4 separate regions of the Homo sapiens genome follow, and all the other regions are linked to region 3. The links come from fine-mapping of genetic effects on gene expression. A gene starts in region 3. Each other region holds a variant in brackets. All regions are shown on one strand. Distances are from middle to middle.

Region 1 (2,688 bases), 160 kb before region 3:
AAATTGTTTTCAGGTAACGGACAAAAAGAAGCCGTGCTTAACATCCAGCCCCACATGCCCCTTTAAACAAGGCTTCATTATACATAGGAGAGATGGAGCGAGGCAGAAAATCCACAGCAGTTGTGCCTCTTTCAGGCGCACCCTGTGCTGCTACATTGAAGGCTCTTTCCTCTTACCCACAGTGACAGTGTGTCATTTAATCGGGATGCCAAGAGATCATTTTCATACAAGGCCAGCAGATGTAATTTTCTTTGATGCATGAATAGTTCATCATTTTGCTACTAGATGACAAGGTGATCACAGGGTGACTTTAGAATGCAAGTTCACTGTTTGGTATTTTGAGTTCTCAAAATGAAAAAAAGATTTATCAAATATAAATATCTTTAAAAAGTAACAAAAGTGCTACATATGTGATCAAGGAAAAAAATTCCATTAGTTACTGCCGCTTAAAGTAGATTAAACTTTACAAATATTACCACATCCATTATCAATATGGCTTCCAATTATTAAATAAATTGCCTGTAGCAATACAGCTTTTCACACCTCTCCAAGGACAGAGTAAAGAGAACAGCAAAGCAGTCCCATCGTGTTCTCATACAGCCACAATGTGAGTAGGAAACGTCCCCTGCTTTTCTCTGCTCCTATCTGGGCAAGTGTCTGCATCTGTGATAAGCAGCACAACCCCACTATGAAGTCCTCTAGTGACCTCTCAGAGTGAGGGGGCTTCCGTTTAATGGATACAAACACTGCAAGTTTTTTCACTCATTTTTGACCTTAGCTCCATCCTTGAAAGACTTTTTTGGTAGCAGGGAAAGGGGACACTGACAGGAGGCAAAGCAACTTCCACGATGACCTCCAAAACTTTTCCAGGCAGGCACTGCTAACTGTGCCGTGGAATGTACAGTGGTTCTGAAAACTGGACTTAGCATCCATTAGACATTCAGCTCATATTTTTTTTTTCCAATGCTCTCAAGCTGGGTTTTTTTTTTTT[TTTTTTTTA/A]ATGACTTTTGGTTTTTGTCTTTGTTTTTAATCATGGTCCCAAAGGCAGAAGGCAGTATTTTATCTACTAAGTCACACAGCTTGTGAGAGGAAAGGATGTCTGTGTCAGGCATGTTAACTTCAAACAAAATCTGAGATCGGCTTTTTCCATTGACATTCTTAGCACAGCACCCAAAGAAGTATAATCTAGCCACAGTGTGGCTATAATGAGGCACGGCTTATTGCAGCTGGAAATCAATTATCCTCACGCTGAGGTGGGGATTCTAGTGTTCCTTTGACTCTGTGGATACTCCCCAAATGGTGTCTGTCATTCCTGTGCCACGACCTCAGCTTGCATCCTATCAGTCTTGGGGAAGGAAAAGGGAGTACAGACTAGTGTTACAAGAATCTAAAGGTACCCAAGATTTTACACGTAGTCTAATATTTGAGAACTGAGGGCTATCTAAATACCTGGAAGCACTTTCTTGGAATGCTAAGACGGAGCAGCAAGATTTTCTAGCCTCGGGGGCTGGGAGAGGGAAGTTTGGTTGGTTGGTTGGTTATTATTTACTGGGAGTTAATACTGAGAGAGTATATGCAAAGGCTGAGGGCACCATGCCATCTTCACAGAACAAGACCCTAACAGCTACCTGACATACAAGAAACTGCAAGTTATACTGTAAGAACACATGTTAAGGACCGAGGAAAGTCTGCTAAGGTGCTACGTCTAAACTAAGTTAACTTGTCATGTTTAACCTCCCTGATCAGTCATCATCCAGGGCCTCTGTCTTGATTTCGTTGGCTCCTTGTCGGGCCAATGCCAAGATAGTGTGGTTGACTGCTGCCATTTCCACAGCTAATGAGATGGGGTCTTGGTGGTCACTATGGCTCGTACTGTCATCCTAGATGTGCAGAAATAAGAAATGTTATTAGTGGATTGGAAGAATTCTTTAGTCACAGAGAGACATGCTGGGGCAAGGGGAGGCAGAACATTCGTGGGAGGAAACTGGGGGAGGGGCTCATGATAAAATAGAGGTAAATTGTATTTAAGTAGACACTGAATGGATATAGGTCCAAAGATTTTCAGTTGATAATCTTATGATTCAACAAGTAAAAAGCACAAAAAATGTTTTTCATCACTGAGAATTCTATTCATTCTATTAATAAGATTGCTGGTGATGATGATCAAACCTGCAGTGATTGATATAAAACCAACAATTTGGATCTTTCTGTTTGTAACAAATATAGCACTAATCACTGAAGGCCATACTAGTGAGCTATTAAATTCCAGATTGCTGCTCTTACAAATAGATTATTAGAATTCATGGTCCCTCTCTGAACTGAGAAAACTAGACAGAACTTACAATTACATCTTACAGATAAAAAATGCATTTTTGTAAAAAAAGAAAAAAAGAATTCTCCATTACAACAGGACACATGTCACTGCCAGAAACGGCTACGGGAGAAAGGGGAGGAAGGTGTCGAGCTCTCCTGCTGCAGGCAGCTGTGCAAGGGGAGCGGCAGGCGTCTTACCTAGAACTAGTGTGAAGCTGTCCTCCCCGCGCAGCTCAATGTGTTAAACAATAAAGCTGTGAAGGAAGCTGGCATTGCAGGATGTACGTCAGGCACTGAAGATGGTGTTACAAATAAGGGGTATGTTTCTCACCTGTCATCTTCAGGGGAACTCCGTATCAAAGAGCTTTGGAAAGG
Region 2 (2,688 bases), 280 kb before region 3:
ACCCTCTCAAAAAAAAAAAAAAGCACCAAAAAACAAGAAATATCTTTTGTTAACTTAATCGACATAGTGAAAATGGCACGGGTAATCACTGAGTGGCTTCATTGGCCTGGAGGCCAGGAGCACCTGTTGCAGGAGTATCTGGTGCCATGCCAAGGGCTTCATGGGTATCGTCTCCTTTCCTTCTCAGAAGGGAAAGGGTGGTGTTCCCAGTGGTCAGATGACACAGAGGGTGCAGAACTAATGAATGGCAGGATCGGGATTGGAATCATCGCTGACTTGACTGTGCAGCTGTTTTTGCCAAGGCTGTGCTCTTCTTATCAAAGGTTAATTTTCATTAGAAGGATACTCACTTCATATTACCAGTCCTTGATAGAAAATAATGAAAAAAACTGTTCATAGTACTTGAACTTGAAGAATGAAACCATAACATTTTTTAAAAGGTCACTTAATCTGCTGTTTAGTTAATTTAGGTTATCATTGCAACTTTCATGTATTAAAAATAACTCATGTGTTTGCTGAATATTTGTCATTATCTTTTTCCTTAAAAATGTATGTGATTGGCTGGGCATGGTGGCTCACACCTGTAATCCCTGCACTCTGGGAGGCCGAGGCAGGCGGATCGCCAGGTCAGGAGATCGAGACCATCCTGGCTAACATGGTGAAACCTTGTCTCTACTAAAAAATACAAAAAAATTAGCCAGGCGTGGTGGCGGGCGCCTGTAGTTCCAGCTACTCGGGAGGCTGAGGCAGGAGAATGGTGTGAACCTGGGAGGAGGAGCTTGCAGTGAGCCGAGATCACGCCACTGCACTCCAGCCTGGGCGACGGAGTGAGACTCCATCTCAAAAAAAAAAAAAAAAGAAAAGAAAATATATGTGATCTGGCTGGGCATGGGGCTCACTGAGGCCTGTAATCCTAGCACTTTGGGGGGCCGAGGTGGACAGATCACCTGAGGCCAGGAGTTTGAGACCAGCCTGGCCAACATGGTGAAACCCCATCTCTACTAAAAATACAGAAATGAGCTGGGAGTAGTGGTGTGCACCTGTAATCCCAGTTACCTGGGAGGCTGAGGCAGGAGAATCGATTGTACCCAGGAGGTAGAGGTTGCAGTGAGCCAAGACCATGCCACTGCACTCCAGCCTGGGCGACAGAGTGAGACTCCATCTCAAAAAAAAAAAAAAAAGAAGAAAAAAAAATTATATGATTTTTTTTA[A/G]CGTCATTTGGACTTCACAGAAGATCGTAAATAGGGGCATTTTTTTTTTTTTTCGCAAAACATGTTCCAGAGCTTAAGCAGTTTTCCCAGAGCTCTCTCCAAATTGGTTGAAATGGAGATCCTTTTCCTTTAAAGTGGGTTTTAGGTCCCTGTTGCTTTTTCCTTCTTAAATTCTTAGTCTGACTCACCCAGATCCTAGTTTGACATGGGCATACTTCCAGTATTCTTCAACATAATTTCCATTGAACTTGTACAATTGCCCATCTTCTATAACATTTTCAGTTTCACAGCGTCTTTTTTTTTCTGCCTCATATTTGCGTTGTAATTGTGTTGTGCTCTTAATGTGTGTAACATCTGAGAATGAGAGAAGCTGTGGCTTTTCTTGGTGATTTGGTCCAGAATAGATGTGAGTGCTCTTCTCCCAGGGAGGATGGAACAACCATTAAATGAGGGTTACGCATTCGCTGAGTCATCACTGGAGAACTATTTCATATTAAGATGATTTTTGGTCCTCTGAATAACCATCTAAATGTGGGCCTCTTAACGTGAAGTAACTTCTGGTAGTGAGTGCTCAGATAATGAGTATCTTTCTAATTCATCTCCCTCTTTTCGTTCCTACTGCCACCTCCCTAATGAAGGCCACTTTTCATCTGTCGCCTGGATGACAGTCGTTTCCCTCGAGCTTTCTTAGTCCAGTCCTTTCTCCATGGTTAGGTTGCAACATCTTTCTACATTAATACTTTTAACCTTCAGTCTTTTCAGTAACTGTCTATAGGCCCTTAGGATAAAGTCCAAGTTCCTTTTTTTTCTTTTTTGTATAAACAGGGTCTCACTATGTTGGCCAGGCTGGTGTTGAACTTCTGGACTCAAGTGATCCTCCTGCCTTGGCCTCCCAAAGTGTTGGGATTACAGGCGTGAGCCGCTGCGCCCAGCCACAGAGTCCAAATTCTTTAATGGCGTGTGACTTACAAGGTCCTTTATGAGCTGACCCCTTTTACTTTTTTTATTGTTCATCTTGTGCTTCTTGGTGTTACAAATTCCAGCTAAGTGATGAGTGTTGTCTTGCCTCTAGGACTTTACTCTTGTTCCACTTGGAACATGCTTTCCCCTCCCATCTCTTCAGTCTCTCCTCCCTCCTCTCCCCTCTCCCTTTACCTGGGTGATGCTTCTCTATCTTTGGGTCTCAAGTGTCACTTTCTGTGAGAGTCTTCCTTAACCTTTCAAGATTTGGCTCTCTGCTGTTTGTTTTAGACCATATTGTATTTATCTCTATCATCTTAGTCCTTGTTATATAGTATTACTTACCAGCATCCTCCCTAGTGGTGAACTCCAGGAAGAGTCGAGTGAATGAGTAATTTCAGCTCTGTTCTGAATCAGCTCTGTGACCTTTGAAAAGTCTGTCGTTTTCCTGGGTCTCACTTTCTCATCTGTAAAATGAAATAATTGGATTATATGTCTTCACAGAGTTCTTTCAGCT
Region 3 (2,688 bases):
AGTAGAAGAAAAATACAAGCAGCGCCTTTCGGCGCACCCCCTCTCCCGCAAATAATTTCCAACAGTTCCTCCTGCTACGAAAATAAGTCGCCCTATCTCCAGATACATAACAGACATTCCGTCTCCTTAGTAGACACACACAGACGCGTACACAATCCAGCACTCCCGACCCCCACCCCAGGCCCCCCGAATCTTCAGCAATTATTCATCTAATTCACACGAAGACAAGATACCTCTACCTACTGTTTCGGGGTGAAGGTGGGTGGAGGACGCCTTTCAAAGTAGCCCCAATAGTGTAACCAAAACACGGTTCCGGAATAAAATATTAAGAAACACTTTTCCTTTCCCACCTATCTACCGACTTGAGGATGCAAAAAATCCATCTCCACATCACACCATCTCTACAGTTCTCGTGGCTGGAGTTTGGGGTGGAGATTCGTCCAGGGGAGGGGGCGGAGGCGAGTGGCAGAGTGTGAGCGGGCGACGGGACACAAGCGAGTTGTTGAGCCCGGCCGCCTCGCACCACGTCGCCAGCCCAAACGCCCAGCACCAGGACCTCACGCCCGCCCCTCAGCCCAGGCCCAGAGCGAGCGAGGACTCGCGCTGTCTAACTTCCCATCTACAGACACCGCTCCAAGACGAGCAGAGCACACAAGTACACGTCACACAGTTTAAACACACTTACACACCCCAAACAAACCAACACACCTGCAAATCACCTCACAGTTTCCAGAACTCCACACCGGAGACCCCACCTCCAGGATTCAAACCTTCCGCTCATCGTAGAGGAAACCAGAAGAGTTGGGGGGCAGTCGACGCCTTTCCAGGACCGGACCCCACGAACTGCCCCACCCCACAGCCCGCGTCTGGGTCACCCACTCGGAAGCCCCCTGCTTCCTCCCTCCTCTCAATCCGGCCGCTTACGAGACCCATCCCCAGCGTCCGCTCACTTCCTCCCCAAAACCCCTCCAAAAAAATTGTTTTAAGTGAAGAGAAAGAAGTGAGGAAAGAGACTTGAGGTAGTCCGGCTTCAAAACCGCTCGACTCACCTCAGAATCCTCGCTGAGTTCTCTCCGCCCGGCACAGCCCCCTCCCCAACGTCCCAGTACGAAGGGCTGAGATAGGGAGGAGGGAAGGCGGGAGGGGGAGGGGTGTCTTCCGCGTGGGGCGCCCGTCGGGAGGGGACTGGGGAGGGGTTGAGGCCGGCGCAGGAAGAGGAGAAGGGGGAGGGGAGGCCCCTATCTCCCAGTCTCCCCCTGAAAAACCTCCCTTGTCTCAATCACATCAGACTGACTGTCTTTGTCTGGCTGACAACCGCCATATTGATATCAACAGCCCCTCTCCCACCTGCTGCCGCCGGGCGTCCCTGGGAGTTGTAGTTCCTGCCTCCCCTGAGAAAAATTGCGGAGCCCGGCGCCTAGAGGGCCAAGGGAACTACAACTTCCGGCAAGCCCCGTGCCCATCCGCCTTCCCTTTGGGAGGAGGGAAAGGGGAGTCGGAGCCGTCGGGACTACACATCCCAGAACACCATGGGCCCCAGGCCCGTAAGGAAGACATGATATCATGCTGGGGTGGAGAGGGAGGATGCATTGGCGGCTGGGATGAATTTGAGCTGACGGAAGGAGGCGTTCGGAGAGGAAAGGGAGGAAAAGGAAAGGCGACCACAGTTCCCATGATGCCTGGAGGGGAGACTACATTTCCCATTATTCCCCTGGAAGGGACGTGAGGATGAAAGACTGCAAGTCCCGCGATGCTCTCGGCTGGCAGGTGGCGGAGATTGCACCGGAAGACGCTTCCTGGGTTTGAGGAGTTCAGTGACTGCTATTGAACCACCAAAAGTCCATTATGAAACTGGTGAGTCTTCGCTCCTAGGTCAGAGGGCAAAGGTGATGCTATAACCTTTTGGACCTCTTTTTTTCCTACGTTGGGCAGGGAATCGTCGCACGGGAGGGGTAGCAATTATTGAGCTGGAAAGTGGAGTGGGCTAAGGAAAGCTGCTTTTTGTTGTTGAGAAGGTTTGAATTCCCTCTCCCCCACCCCATCCCTCCCAGGAGGTCTTTTTTCACTCGTTAGTGGGTCTTTTTGTTCAGACAAGAGGTTGACTGTCACAGTCCTTCGCCCATGAACTCTGTGGGCTCTGTTAACCAGGTTTGGACGTCCTGGTTCCCACGTGAGGGTTATAATAGGCTGTTAACAATCCGTTTCCATTCGATTGGCGCTTGAGTATCCTGTCTCCCTACTGTTGTTGAGACTGGCTAGATTTAAGCAGACAGTAAAAAACATCCAGCAGAACGTAATCACTTATTAAATATCCTGTTATATAGACTCCTCACTGCCCTTGGAATTCAGGACGAGGTCAGAGTGTGGAGAAGTTGAGTCTTAAACCCTGCATGGGATTTAGATGGGCAGAGAAGTGTTATATGGTATTCCATTCTAAGACTGTAGGGACTTCATGAGCCAAGGCTGAATGAAGCGTGCTCGGTATACCTGAAGTCTTAACATCACACAGCTCAAGCACCTGGTTCATGGAGGCTCCTCAGACCTTTGATTTGAGCCATTTGACTCATTGTGCACACAAGTCTAACTAGTTTATTCCAACTCGATTCAATTAGTTAATAACATAGTGTAGAAAGGCAGGTGTGAAACACTGTTTCTCAACCTTTTAAAACCCATATTTGTGCAGCCAAG
Region 4 (2,688 bases), 160 kb before region 3:
AAAAGCAAATAGATCCCTAAATTATCTGTTACCTTATCACAATGGCTGAAACACTGAATGAATTTTTGTGCTAAGGAAATTAATTAGAATGTAATTAAACAAGAACCTGTATTTCTCTACATTTGTTTCTTTTAGACTGTAAGATGGATGAAATTCAACTGCATGTAGGTCAGGGGAGGCACACATTTGCCATTCTGGGGTCTCTGCTGCTGTGCATGTTAGGTGCTTCATAAATACTTGCTAACTAACTAAACAGTCTTCCTATCTTGGGGTTCTATAGAGCATATGAGAACTGTACTGATGAATAAAAAGTGTATTTACAAAGGAAGGAAATGAAATGCATTCTATGCCCATACCACGCTCAATGCGCCCGATCTCGTCTGATCTTGGAAGCTAAGCAGGGTCAGGCCTGGTTAGTACTTGGATGGAAGAAATGAAATGCAATTTTAGAAGCTAAAAACCAACATCCCACCTGACTCACCAACTTAAATTTCTTATTCTTATTTATTACTGTTACAGTTTTGAATGGGAACAAATCCTTTATTTCTTCCTTTTTCAGTTGTATTCGTAGTTCCCTCTAGGGCACTTTTGGCATTTTTGTTTTCTCTGTTCAGCTTTATTGAAATATAATTAATAAAAATTGTATATATTTATGGTGTACAAGGTGATGTTTTGATATGTGTATATATACATAAATGATTACATCAAGAATCCATATTTCTTAAATGCTCTTTATCTCTGCCTTTTGCTGCGTTCCTTGTCTATTAAGTCTCTTTCATTCCAAACCATTAATCAATTGTTTCCTAATATTTAAGTCATAGTCCAGTAATAATGAAGAAATTCTGGGTATTACATTCCCTTTCTCAAGATCTTACAAGTATCTTTCAAATGTACCACAGGAGTAATCAATTGCTCAGGGGCCATGTCTAATTCTATATTCTAGAACTTTAAGAAGAATGAGTTTTATAAATAATAATGTCATTACCATTACACTACAAATAGTGTAAATAATACTAACTGTGGTTTATTAAAAACACAATGAAAGACATTAGGGCAACTTTTGTTAGGCTTAGAAGTTAGGATCCGGCACGGTGGCTCACACCTGTAATCCCAGCATTTTGGGAGGCCGAGGCGGACGGATCACCTGAGGTCGGGAGTTCGAGACCAGCCTGACCAACATAGAGACACCCCATCTCTACTAAAAATACAAAATTAGCCAGGTGTGGTGGCACATGCCTATAATCCCAGCTACTCGGGAGGCTGAGGCAGGAGAACCACTTGAACCCAGGAGGCAGAGGTTGCAGTCAGCCAACATCGCGCCACTGCACTCCAGCCTGGGCAACAAGAGTGAAACTCCGTCTCAAAAAAAAAAAAAAAAAAA[AG/G]AGAAGTTAGGATCCTTTAGACTTGCAGTTTCTAAACTGAAGTTAATCTTAATATAAACATGACGTTCACAACTGCTGCACAAGAGAAAAGCAGCCTCACTGATACATTACCAATATTGGCTCTCCTCTTGATCTCCTTCCTTCTGTTAGCAAACCAATTATATACTTTCAGGGAGGTAACTCTTTCCAGATCTGACAGCTTTTTGCCTGTGAATACATGCAATAAAATTCAGATAATCTATATCTGGGATCCAAGAATAAACTAGTTTTAAGGGCTAATATTTTTATTTTGTTGCTTTTGATTACGTTTATTGCCAAAACTACAGATGCAGAGGGATTTTTAAAGTATTACCTGGTACCATGTACACACCCCAATTACTGAATGAATAAATATGTAAATGAATACAAAAACAACAACTAGTAACACAACATGCTTCAATTCGGAAAGCCATACATAATATTAGAGAATTCCACAAAGTCAGTTGGCTAGGGTGTCAGATCCACGTCCATGTGACAGTACTATGGGGGCTTCATTTAATTACCATTATTGTATCAGAATAAGATATTCTTTTTTTATTTTTTTGAGAAAGGGTCTCATTCTCTTACCCAGGCTGGAATGCGGTGGTGCAATTATAGCTCACTGCAGCCTTGACCTCCTGGGCTCAAGTGCTCCTCCCACCTCAGCCCCCCAGGTAGCTGGGACTACAGGCCCAGGCCACCATACCAGGCTAACTTTTGTGGTTTTTGTAGAGATGGGGTCTCGCCATTGTTGCCCAGGGTAGCCTCCAACTCCTGGGCTCAGGCGATCTGCCCACCTTGGCCTCCCAAAATATTGGGATTACAAGCGTGAGCCACCACAACAACCCAAGATAAGTTATTCTTTATCAAGTATCCAGACAACAGAAATTTACTTACATCTTTAAGGCCTTATGTTAACTAATTACCTGCTGTCTTAGGACAGAGGATATTATACATGTTTTCTTGAAGGCTGAAGGCCGCTATGACTATCCATTACTGTAACTGGTTTGGACTACATAGCACAATTCAAGTTGCATTTTAGATTTACCATCTTTGAAGTCCAATGTGATTTTTTATGGATAGTAACCATGCTTGCCAATACAGACCCCCCTGTAACATTTCCTCCTCACCTTTCCTTTTGTTTTTCGGCTATTAATCCACAGTGGGTGAAGAAACCAGAAAGCAGGTTTGTTAGGGCCTTGATGATACGGGGGCAAAATGTTCCAGGGAGAGTTCAAGTTTCTGCACAGCTTTAGGGCTGGGACTTTTGGCATGTTTGAAACAGGGT

Which allele goes with the higher level. Alleles are on the strand shown, and positions count from the first base shown. SD is a standard deviation of normalised expression in the study named. Not every link is listed here.
For the expression in monocytes of the gene that starts at base 1,333 in region 3, allele TTTTTTTTA in region 1 goes with a higher level than allele A (large effect, 1.1 SD a copy in CEDAR).
As copies of AG replace G in region 4, the expression in monocytes after LPS of the gene that starts at base 1,333 in region 3 goes up (large effect, 1.2 SD a copy in Fairfax 2014).

Evidence for each region. PIP is the estimated chance that this variant, and not a neighbour inherited with it, causes the effect.
Region 1: its variant is the best candidate, but not a certain one, in a credible set for the expression of HMBOX1 in monocytes (CEDAR, PIP 0.60).
Region 2: its variant is the best candidate, but not a certain one, in a credible set for the expression of HMBOX1 in lung (TOPMed, PIP 0.83).
Region 4: its variant is the best candidate, but not a certain one, in a credible set for the expression of HMBOX1 in monocytes after LPS (Fairfax 2014, PIP 0.59).

Annotation. Positions count from the first base shown.
Region 1 is chr8:29,050,210-29,052,897 of GRCh38, reverse strand. It overlaps HMBOX1 (homeobox containing 1), which reads right to left. Exons shown (of 10, transcript NM_001135726.3): 10 at 1-1,880. The coding sequence ends at 1,743. Among named protein-coding and RNA genes, the nearest start is that of HMBOX1, 160 kb to the right of the region's middle. The variant TTTTTTTTA/A (reference allele first, on the strand shown) is at 992.
Region 2 is chr8:29,170,253-29,172,940 of GRCh38, reverse strand. All of the region lies in intron 10 of KIF13B (kinesin family member 13B), which reads left to right. Among named protein-coding and RNA genes, the nearest start is that of KIF13B, 91 kb to the left of the region's middle. The variant A/G (reference allele first, on the strand shown) is at 1,212.
Region 3 is chr8:28,889,040-28,891,727 of GRCh38, reverse strand. It overlaps HMBOX1 (homeobox containing 1), which reads right to left and starts at 1,333. Exons shown (of 10, transcript NM_001135726.3): 1 at 1,050-1,333. It overlaps INTS9 (integrator complex subunit 9), which reads left to right and starts at 1,759. Exons shown (of 17, transcript NM_018250.4): 1 at 1,759-1,854. The coding sequence starts at 1,846. RefSeq lists a silencer at 1,091-1,210 and enhancers at 863-1,419, 1,581-1,780, 1,420-1,976.
Region 4 is chr8:29,046,259-29,048,946 of GRCh38, reverse strand. It overlaps HMBOX1 (homeobox containing 1), which reads right to left. Exons shown (of 10, transcript NM_001135726.3): 8 at 1,494-1,589. It also overlaps the pseudogene RNA5SP260. Among named protein-coding and RNA genes, the nearest start is that of HMBOX1, 160 kb to the right of the region's middle. The variant AG/G (reference allele first, on the strand shown) is at 1,382.